2 separate regions of the Homo sapiens genome follow, and region 2 is linked to region 1. The links come from fine-mapping of genetic effects on plasma protein levels. Region 1 holds a variant in brackets. A gene starts in the other region. All regions are shown on their reverse strands.

Region 1 (5,321 bases):
GAGCTATTCATGGGCATAGCCGTGGTACACTACAGCCTCAAACTCCTGGACTCAAGCAATCCTCCCGTGTCTGCCTCCCCAGCAGCTGGGACTACAGGTGCACACCACCATGTCTGGCTTACATCCAAAGCATTTGAGTGCACTTAGGAGGATCTTCTGCATTTAACATAAAATTTATAAACCCCTTAGGAATTTTTTTCTTAAAAATCTATAGAATTTTATTAATATTAAATCCACTACTTCCAAAGTTATATTACTGTGGTAGGCGGAATTCTAAGATGGACCCCATGACCTTCACACCCTGGTGTTAGCCTCATGAGTATGTTACACTATATGACAAGAGAGAGATTATCAAGGTGCGTCTAATCAAATCCCACAAGTCCTGTAAAATCAGAAAGTTTTCTCTGGCTATTGGGTTGGTGGCAGCAGGAAAGGTCAATAAGATGTGGATTTGATATCTCTTTGCTGGCTTTGAAAATGGAAAGGTCACATGAAGAGACAAACGAGTGACCTCTAGAGCTGAGAGTGATCTCCAGAGCTGAGAATAGCCCCCAACCAACAGCCAGCAAGAAAACAGGAATCTCAGTACCG[C/T]ATTTGCACAGAATTGTATTATGCCAACAACCTGAATAAGGTTGGAGGTAAGGTTCTTCCCCCGACCTACACAGAAGCCTGGCCTGGCCTGGCCAACACCCATATTTGGGCCTTGAGAAAACCTAAGCAGAGGAGCCAGCTGATCCCACTTGGATGTCTGGTCTTCAGAACCATGAGCTACTAAATGGTATGGCTTTAAGCACATAAGCTTGTAGTTATGCGTTATATAACAATAAAAAATACTGATACTCTGAAGTCCCAGTGAGATTGATGAGACATTTGACCCATATACATAATAAATAAATACATCTAGATATGAAACCTCAGTGAAGGGGGGATGTAAAATATTCAGTGCATTTCCTTATTAGCATTGCTTATAAGTAGTAAGTTAATAAATAATATGGTTTGGATGTGTATCGCCTCCCGGTCTCATGTTGAAATGTGATTCCCAATGTTGAAGGTGGGGCCTAGTGGGGGGTGCTGGATCATGGGTGCAGATCCCCCATGAATGACTTAGTGCCATCCCACTGGTGATAAGTGAGTTCTTTATCCGTTCATGCAAGAGCTGGTCGTTTAAGAGGAACCTGGGGCCTCCCCACTTCACTGCTTCCCTCTTGCCATGTGATACGCTGGCTCCTCCTTTGCTTTCCACCATGACTGTAGGTGTCCTGAGGCCTCACCAGAAACAGGTGCCAGCACCATGACTCCTGTACAGCCTACAGAACCATGAGCCAAAATAAAGCATATTTCCTTATATTAATAAATTACCCAGCCTCAGGTATTTCTTTATAGCAATGCAAAATCAGACTAACATGTTAATATAGTTTGATTTTTAATATCAGAACAAATACTGTTTCTACTGCTACTGCTACTGCTACTGCTACTACCACTACCACTATACTTATTTGCCTTTAAACACTTACAGTGAACTACTTTTTTTTTTGAAACGGAGTCTCGCTCTGTTGCCCAGTCTGGAGTGCAGTGGTGCAATCACAGCTCACTGCAGCCTCCACCTCTCAGACTCAAGCCATCCCCTGACCTCAGCCCTCTGAGTAGCTGGGAAGGCACACACCACCATGCCCAGCTAGTTTTCTGTATTTTTTTGTAGAGAAGGGGTTTTGCCATGTTGCCCAGGCTGGTCTCGAACTCCTGGGTTCAAGCAATCCATCCGCCTCAGCCTCCCAAAATGTTGGGATTACAGGCGTGAGCTGCCACGCCCGGTCTAGTGAATTTTTATTGATACCCAACCTGAGTGGTCACGTAACTGCGCATTGCATTATTTTTATTATGTAACCACCCTGAGGGTCACCATTGTCATCCCTACATTACACAAGAGTAGATTCAGAGTCAAAGAGTTTATGTGGTCTTCCCAAACTCTAGAGGTAAATAACAGAGATTGAAAGGTAGGTCTCCATGGATTGTGCATTTAACACAATCTAACAGGTCATGTATTCCCAAGCCATTCCTCTTCCGGCACAGTGGTCTGCTTCATTTCTAACAAAAGAGATCTGTGAAATGGCTTTTGATATGGTCTGTATCCCATTCCTCTCCCTACCCCTTCTCTCCTAAACTCAATTCTTCATCATGATGTGACCATACCCCAACCAAACTGCGCATGTCCATCTTCCCAGGGACCTCCGTGTTGATGAATGGTTACTTGTCAGTTTGTCTTTTTTTTAAGATGGAGTTTTGCTCTTGTTGCCCAGGCTGGAGTTCAATGGCATGATCTTGGCTTACTGCAACCCCCATCTCCCGGGTTCAAGTGATTCTCCTGCCTCAGCCTCCCGAGTAGCTGGGATTACAGGCATGCACCACCACGCCTGGCTAATTTTGTATTTTTAGTAGAGACAAGGTTTCCTCAGGTTGATCAGGCTGGTCTCGAACTCCTGACCTCAGGTGATCTGCCCGCCTCGGCCTCCCAAAGTGCAGGGATTTACAGGCGTGAGCCACCGCGCCCGGCCCAGAGTTCATCTTCAATGATTTTTCTGTATCTCTCAACACTGAGAATCTACTTGTGCTGGAAAATCTCCCTTTTCCAAAGGTAACACTCATCCATGTTTCCCTTCCCTCACTGCTCACTACTCCTTGATCCTCTTTGCTGTTCTCTTCTCCTCCACCACCACCACTGGAGAAACCTATAGTCCCAAGACTTGGACTTCTTCTCTCTCTCTCACCTCACTCCCTATCTACCCGGGTGCTGGCTGGTTCATTGCTTTGATAAAATTCCATTCATATGCTGACTGATTCCCAATGCATGTGCTTAGCTTTGAACTTTACCCTGAAACTCCCTATTGTACATTCATCTGCCCACTTGATAGCAACATTTGAATATTTAGCACTCATCGCAACATCCACATATCCAAAACCCTGTGCCCTTCTTCTGCTTCAACTGTCGCTTTCCTCATCAATATAAGTGGCAATCACATTTTGCCAGTTCGCAAGATCCAAAACCTTGGAATCATTCATGGCTCTTCCTGTTTATAGCACATCATATATAATCCAACAGCAAATCTTAACAGCTCTGCCTTCAGTATATAACAAAAATCTGTCCATCTTGCGGCACCTTCCGTAATAACATCTATTCCAACACATAATCATCTCTCATCAAATTACTGCAAAGACCCTTAACTGCTTTTCCCATGTCAATCTTCTCCTCTCTGTAATTTACTTACAAGAAAGCATATAGAGTGATCCTCATAAAACATTAGTCCAATCAAACTATTTTTCTAGGTACAACTTTCAACTATGTCCTATTTCGCTCAGGGATAAAGTATCATGCTCAGCATGGCCTGCCTATCTAGCCCTTTCTTGGTCTCTCCGACCCTCCTGTCATTTACTCTGCCACAGAGTCCTCACACTGACATCCTCACAGCTCCTGGAACACACCTGCCATCCTCCACGTCAGGCCTTGGCGCTCATTTCTGCTGCCTGAATGCTTTCTTCCAGATCATATATTTGCTGGGTTATCCCCTGCAGGGCGGGGTCTTTCCTGGTCACCTTATTCAAAACTAGAACTTCTCATTACCCTTTGCATACTCTTTTTGATTTTCTTCAATATTCTGTGTCAGCCACTTACAGCCTGTGTATTTTGGTGAAGTACATATCTGCAACACAAAGCTACGGATTGTAGAGTATTTTGTTGTTGTTGTTGAATGATATATTCCAATGTTTAAAAGAATGGGTGAGATAAAATTAATCACACATTTTGAATGATTTCATTCCATAAAAACAAATATGGATATGAGGTTGCTGAGTCTGAGGGTGCCATGACGATTTTAATCAAGTTGGGCATTTAGCATACATTCATCTACCCAGGAGAACGTGGGTACTATGCTGCAGAGATGGGTTTTCTCATTAAGGGACTTTACACTCTTTCCCTCTAAGTAGTGAAGTCACTATTTAGACATAGTTTTCATTACTTGGGATAAATTAGATTTTAAAATGAAATTGTAAACAATACTGAATCTATACTGTTTTAAAGAATAATACAATCAGACTAAACACACTAATTTTTTGTGACACTGCTTATTCCTACATGAAAATAACTGACAATATTTTTGGCTTTATTGACTCACTAATTCAAGCAACTCATCAAATTCTCAGCCAATAAATTAAACCAAACTTCTTGCTAATTGATAACTTTGCAGTGCTTTCATATTGATTACTTTTAGGAGGTGGGGTGCTTTCAAATGTTTCATTTTGTCCTCCAAGCAATTTATTTTTAGCATTTTATAAGCAAGGAAATGTAAATTTACTGGAAGTAACGTTACTCATATCAGCTAATAAGAGATGACCTACAGTTTTAAGCCCATAGTCTAACCAAATGTAGACTCTATGGGTGGCCGTGACTCTGATACTGCTCATGAATATACTAATCCTCGTTCTTCTGGGCGTGGTGGTGCAGGCTCTATGGGTGGCCGTGACTCTGATACGGCTCATGAATATACTAATCCTCGTTCTTCTGGGCGTGGTGGTGCAGGCTCTATGGGTGGCCGTGACTCTGATACGGCTCATGAATATACTAATCCTCGTTCTTCTGGGCGTGGTGGTGCAGGCTCTATGGGTGGCCATGACTCTGATACTGCTCATGAATATACTAATCCTCGTTCTTCTGGGCGTGGTGGTGCAGGCTCTACGGGTGGCCGTGACTCTGATACTGCTCATGAATATACTAATCCTCGTTCTTCTGGGCGTGGTGGTGCAGGCTCTACGGGTGGCCGTGACTCTGATACTGCTCATGAATATACTAATCCTCGTTCTTCTGGGCGTGGTGGTGCAGGCTCTATGGGTGGCCGTGACTCTGATACTGCTCATGAATATACTAATCCTCGTTCTTCTGGGCGTGGTGGTGCAGGCTCTATGGGTGGCCGTGACTCTGATACTGCTCATGAATATACTAATCCTCGTTCTTCTGGGTGTGGTGGTGCAGGCTCTATGGGTGGCCGTGACTCTGATACTGCTCATGAATATACTAATCCTCGTTCTTCTGGGCGTGGTGGTGCAGGCTCTATGGGTGGCCGTGACTCTGATACTGCTCATGAATATACTAATCCTCGTTCTTCTGGGCATGGTGGTGCAGGCTCTATGGGTGGCCGTGACTCTGATACTGCTCATGAATATACCAATCCTAATTTTTCTGGGCATGGTGCACTCTCCCACGGAAGGAGACCAGGGAATTTTACCCTAAAATATGGCACCCTGGTATGCCCATTATTTTAAATTAAAGGCCC
Region 2 (5,326 bases), not on the chromosome of region 1:
GCAGAACTCACTTTTCACCATACAGAATGAAAAAACAAACATTTGTTGTCCCATATGTTTTGCCCGGTGGGGAGTCACGTGGCCCAATCTTGGCCACTGGAACCTGAGGAGAAAACTCCTGAGGACTTGAAATAAAGATTTTCTTTCCTAAGAAAATCCGATCAACCCCAGAAAATGCTCATCTTAGTCACTGAACGTGATATCTTTGTTCCTAGCGATACCAGAACTAATGCAGCCGTGTATGACCATGAGGCTAAATGTTGCTGACATGCTGAGGATATTGGCATGGAAAGATGAAAAGCACAGAAGCCCCAAAATTTGTTGAGCAACTAAACGAACCTGGAATATCTCTGCCTCTGTATGTCTGTGTATTAGTCTATTCTCTCATTGCTTTACAGCAATGAGAAATACCTGAGACTGGATAATTTATGAAGTAAAGAGGCTTAGTTGGCTCGTGGTTCTGCAAGCTGCACAGGAAGCAGAGTGACTCCTGCTTCTGGGGAGGCCTCAGGAAACTTACAATCATGGTGGAAGGTGAAGGGGAAGCAGGCACATATTACATGGCTAGAACAGGAAGAAGAGAGAGAGGAGGGAGGTGCTACACACTTTTAAGCAGCCAGATCTCATAATAACTCACTCACTTACTCTCACAAGAACAGCACTGAGGGGATGGTGCTACCCATCATGAGAAATCTGCCTCCATGATCCAATCACCTCCCACCAGGCTCCACCTCCAACACTGGGGATTACAATTCAACATGAGATTTGCTGGGGACAGATCCAAACCATATCAGTCTGGTTATATAAAAAAATAAATGCCATTATTTCAGCTCATCCTATTTGGGTCTTCTGTTACTTGCAACCACAGGATGCTAGTTAATAAACCCACTTGTAGTTTTAAAGCATGAGCCCCAAATTATTTGACACTTCTCCCATTGAGAAGTGGATTATGTGTCCCCTCCCCTTGAATCTGAGTGAATGTTTCAATGATTAGAGTATGGTAGAAGGGCTGCTGTGTAACTCGTGACACTAGGTGATAAAAGGTGACATATCTTCTGCCATGCTCGATGGAACCCTCATGCTTGGAGCCTTGAGTTGCCATGTAAAAGATCTGGCTACCCTAAGGTTGCCATGATGGTAAGAAGCCAATCCACTCGGTGGGGCCATGTGTTGTTGCTCCAGTTGGAAGTGCTAATATTTTATTCATCCAAGCCCAGATATCAGACATGTGAATGAACAAGTCTTCAGATGATTCTGGTCCCCACCATTGAATTTCCTCCAGTCTTTGAGTCTCCCCACCTGAGGCCCCAGACATCACAGAGCAGAGGCAAATTATTTCTGCTGTGCCTTGTTCAAATTTCTGACTAAACGAATCCATGAGCATAATATAGTAAATAAGCTGCTAAATTCTGGGGTAATTTATTACACAGGAATGGTAACTGGAACAACACTTCTTCATCTCACTTTATATGCATCATGAATGATCACATAACACAAACTTGAGATGTGCTGGTGTAGCTCTTGCAGTATTAAGATTAGGTAACTTCAGGGTTTAACCCACCCAGGCATAGAAACAGTTCTTTAGGGAAATAAAACTGATGTTCACAAAGACACTACGAATCCTTCTCATGAATAGACTGCCGGAGTTGCTCATAGGATGAAAACTTTGGTAAAAAAAATTCTTGAAAGAGGATGTGCTTCCTCTATGAATTACAGTCACTTTTCTGCAGTAACCCTGCATGATCCACAACTTAGGAGAACCAATAACAAACACCATACTATCAAGTAAACAGCCTTGTTTGGTTCTAAGTTCATAAAATAAGAGCCTGAGGTTCAGAAGCCCAGGAGTCCAGTTAACACCTATGTGCCCTGTAGAAGTTACTTTATCTTCTCAGCTTCAGTTTTACTTGTAAAATAAGGGAGATGGACTAGAAGACTAATGGTTTCCAACTTTGATTCTGGGGAGCAAAATAGAAAAGTGTTGTGGTTGGCTGAATAATGCTCCCCCTCAAATTTGTCCACATCTGAATTCTGAGAATCTGTGAATATGATACAGAGTGCAAAAGACACATGGCATATGTGATTAAGTTAAGGGTCTTGAGAGGGAAACAGGAGGGCAAGAGTCATACATCTCTCGTTTATAGAGATGCCTCACACTTCCTTTGAAGCAGAAGCGAGAGAGGAGAAAAGATACTACTGGCTTTGAATTTGGAGGAAGGGGTCATGAGCCAAGGAATGCAGGCAATCTCTAGAAGCTGGAAAAGGCAAAGAAACAGAGTCTGTCTTGGAGCCTCCAGAAGGCATGCAGCTCTATGGGCCCATTTTAGACTTCTGACCTCCAGAACTGAGGCAGGAGAATAGGGTCAGGAGGCAGGGAACTTAAAACTGTTTCACGCTTACTTCATAGAACTAAATTGAAAGGAAAACCCTGGCCAGGCACAGTGGCTCACGCCTGTAATCCCAGCACTTTGGGAGGCTGAGGCAGGCAGATCACTTGAGGTCGATGAAGTCGGGAGTTCGAAACCAACCTGACCAACATGGAGAAACCCCGTCTCTACTAAAAATACAAAATTAGCTGGGCGTGGTGGTGCATGCCTGTAATCTCAGCTACTCAGAAGGCTGAGGCAGGAGAATCGCTTGAACCCGAGAGGCGGAGGTTGCCGTGGGTGAGCCGAGATCGCGCCATTGCACTCCGGCCTGGGCAGCAAGAGTGAAACTCCGTCTCAAAAAAAAAAAAAAAAGGAAAACCCTAACCTTCCATACCTTCCATGCCTAAGTAACAAAAGGACCAGAGGCTATTCCCTTTGCAAATCCCCACCTTTTCTGCAGGGCAGATGGGAAATTTAAAGTACCTCTGATTGGTTGCTTTTTGCAACCAAAGAGCAAAAAGCAACCAATCAGACATTTGCACAGGAGTGGAACTTTGTAACTTCACTTCAGCCTCTGATTGGTTGCTGTCTGCAACCAATCAAACTGATTATGGGCCAAATCTTTGTTTGAATAGAAGTGCAACTTTGTAACTTCACTTTAGCCTCTGATGGTTGCTTTCTTGCAACCAATCAGACGTTTGCATAGGAGTGTGGCCTTTGTAACTTCAGCCTCTGATTGTGGGCCACTACTTCATTTACATGGGGTGCACACCAAGTGGCCAATGGGAAATCTCTAGGGGGTATTTGGACCAGAGAAGATTCTGGATCCCGGCCCTTGAGCGGCTTCTCTGCCCGCTCCCACCCTGTAGAGTGTACTTTCGTTTTCAATAAATCTCTGCTTTTGTTGCTTCATTCTTTCCTTGCTTTGTTTGTGCGTTTTGTCCAATTCTTTGTTCAAAGAGCCAAGAACCTGGACACCCTACACTGGTAACAGAACTGTAAGAGAACAGGACTGTGTTTCTTTAAGGCACTACATTTACGGTAATTTGTTACAGTAGCAATAGGAAAGTAATACAGTGGTTAAGAGCTTGGGCTCTGCTATCAGACTACTTGAGCTCAAGTCCCTTTTCTACACCCTACTGGCTGTATGACCTTGGGCAAATTAAATTCTCTATACCTCAGTTTCATCTTGATAAAAGCAGTGATGGAAGAACTAACTCCTCTGACTTATTGTGAGGTTTTGAGGAAGTGTCTAGGATCATCTGGAAATTAGTAATTTATTTTAAAATTACTAATTTAAAATTACTACATTTATTTTAAAATTACTAATTTAAAATTACTACATTTATTTTAAAATGTAGTCATTGTTCTCTTGTTGAGAAGCATCTACTTTAGGAGCCGTGTATACAGCTTCTCATCAGATCCTTACAACCAGTAGTGAAATAGGTATGATGGTAAGTTTCCATATGAGAAAACTGAAGCTGTGGGAGGTGAATTTTTCCAAGTAACATAGCTAGTAAGTGGACAAATCAAAGTGGCTGGTTTACCACGAAATTAACTACATTTATGTGCCACATGATGGTGAATGAACAAATACGTGCAAGTAATCACAGCAGTGGGCACTCAACCACTAGTGCGGAGTCTAGACTAACTGCCACTAGGTCACCCCATCTGATCCACACTGGCGCCATTCCCAGTTCTTTACATTCATCCCTTGTTTCCAGAAAGGGCAGAGGAAGCGAGGAAAAAGTGCGTGGCCTGAAGTGACGCCTGGCGTTGCCCGAAGCCCGCCCAGCGCTGCCAGGTGACGCCACTGCGACACAAAGGCGGGGATTGCGTAGGGAAAGGCCCTAGGCCATAAACGGGGGTGGGGCCTCCCCGGAGGCCAGTGCGCGGCCGCGGTGCTCTACCGGCGTGTCGCTCCGCCCCAGGGAGAGCCGGCGCTACCATGGAGGAGTACCATCGCCACTGCGACGAGGTACCGCCCCTTGGCTACCTGGGAGCGCCCCCCACTCCCGCCTTCCTCTGCGCGGGGCTCTTGCCGGGTGGTCTCCCAGCGAGGGCGGTCCCAAGAGTTGGGGTGCGGCGTCCTCCGAGCCCGGGTCCTCTCCCCTGGGCCCGGGATCCGCCCCGCCCGACCCGTTCTCCCCACCCCAAAGTCCTGAGATTCGGGGTGGGAGGGGTGGCCAGGAGCGCGCGGATCAGACGGTGGGGTCGGGGCAGGGTTGGGAGGACGAGGCCTGACTTGGGTGCGAGGAGTGGGCATGGGGTGACGGGCGCCGCCCTCCTACCGGGCGGGCCTCGAAAACGGGTCTTCCCGCTGCTGCCTCCGTCCCTTGGCTTCCTCAGCGCGGGTGCTGCAGCCCCCATGGCTCGGAGTCTCGGGGTCCTGGTGGCACTGCCATTCCCGCTCCCGGTAATGCTTGCCAGGATTAGGCAAGGAGGTGCTTTATGGATTACGAGCCCTTGCTTACTGACTCAGGCTTTCCCAACCCTCACCAGAAACCCATGATGTCAGTTGTTATCTCCCTGTTATTGATGGGGACTCCAAAGAAAAGACTAAGTTGTCAGACCACTTTATAGTACTAAAGTGATATTAATCTTGAGTTATCAAGTATTTTCATAATCTTTAATTTGGGAAAGGAATTTTTGCCTAGAAATTTTTGCCTAGCATAAGTTAAAAACAAAATTGAAAATAGTCTACTAAGCATTCTCTTCATATGGACCACTTCATTCTCTCACTTAGCTGAAACCATTTCTATATTCTTATGACACATAACATCCTCATAGTCACCTCTTGCTTATTTCCTACGTTTTACAATACAATGATTCTTAATCTAGGATGTTCATTAGAATCACCAGTATAAAGCACTTTTTTAAAAAAAAATGTAGACTTGCAGGCTCTGCCCCAGACCTCACGGGAGGTAGGTAGGGAAAGCATTCAGTATTTTTAAGTG

Alleles and levels. Positions count from the first base shown, and alleles are read on the strand shown. Strength reflects both the effect of a copy and how common the allele is.
For the plasma level of the protein whose gene starts at base 4,257 in region 2, T is the low allele of the variant in region 1 and C is the other (moderate association).

The links. PIP is the chance, under the fine-mapping model, that this variant and not a neighbour inherited with it causes the effect. Protein levels are from antibody-based Olink assays in UK Biobank. Linkage for the fine-mapping came from a reference panel and not from the study's own genotypes, which makes the PIPs less certain.
Region 2: DYNLT3 starts here. The variant in region 1 is fine-mapped to the plasma level of the DYNLT3 protein (UK Biobank, PIP above 0.99).

The regions. Positions count from the first base shown.
Region 1 is chr1:247,870,179-247,875,499 of GRCh38, reverse strand. All of the region lies in intron 5 of TRIM58 (tripartite motif containing 58), which reads right to left. Among named protein-coding and RNA genes, the nearest start is that of TRIM58, 16 kb to the right of the region's middle. The variant C/T (reference allele first, on the strand shown) is at 592.
Region 2 is chrX:37,846,502-37,851,827 of GRCh38, reverse strand. It overlaps DYNLT3 (dynein light chain Tctex-type 3), which reads left to right and starts at 4,257. Exons shown (of 5, transcript NM_006520.3): 1 at 4,257-4,347. The coding sequence starts at 4,318. RefSeq lists a silencer at 4,484-4,593.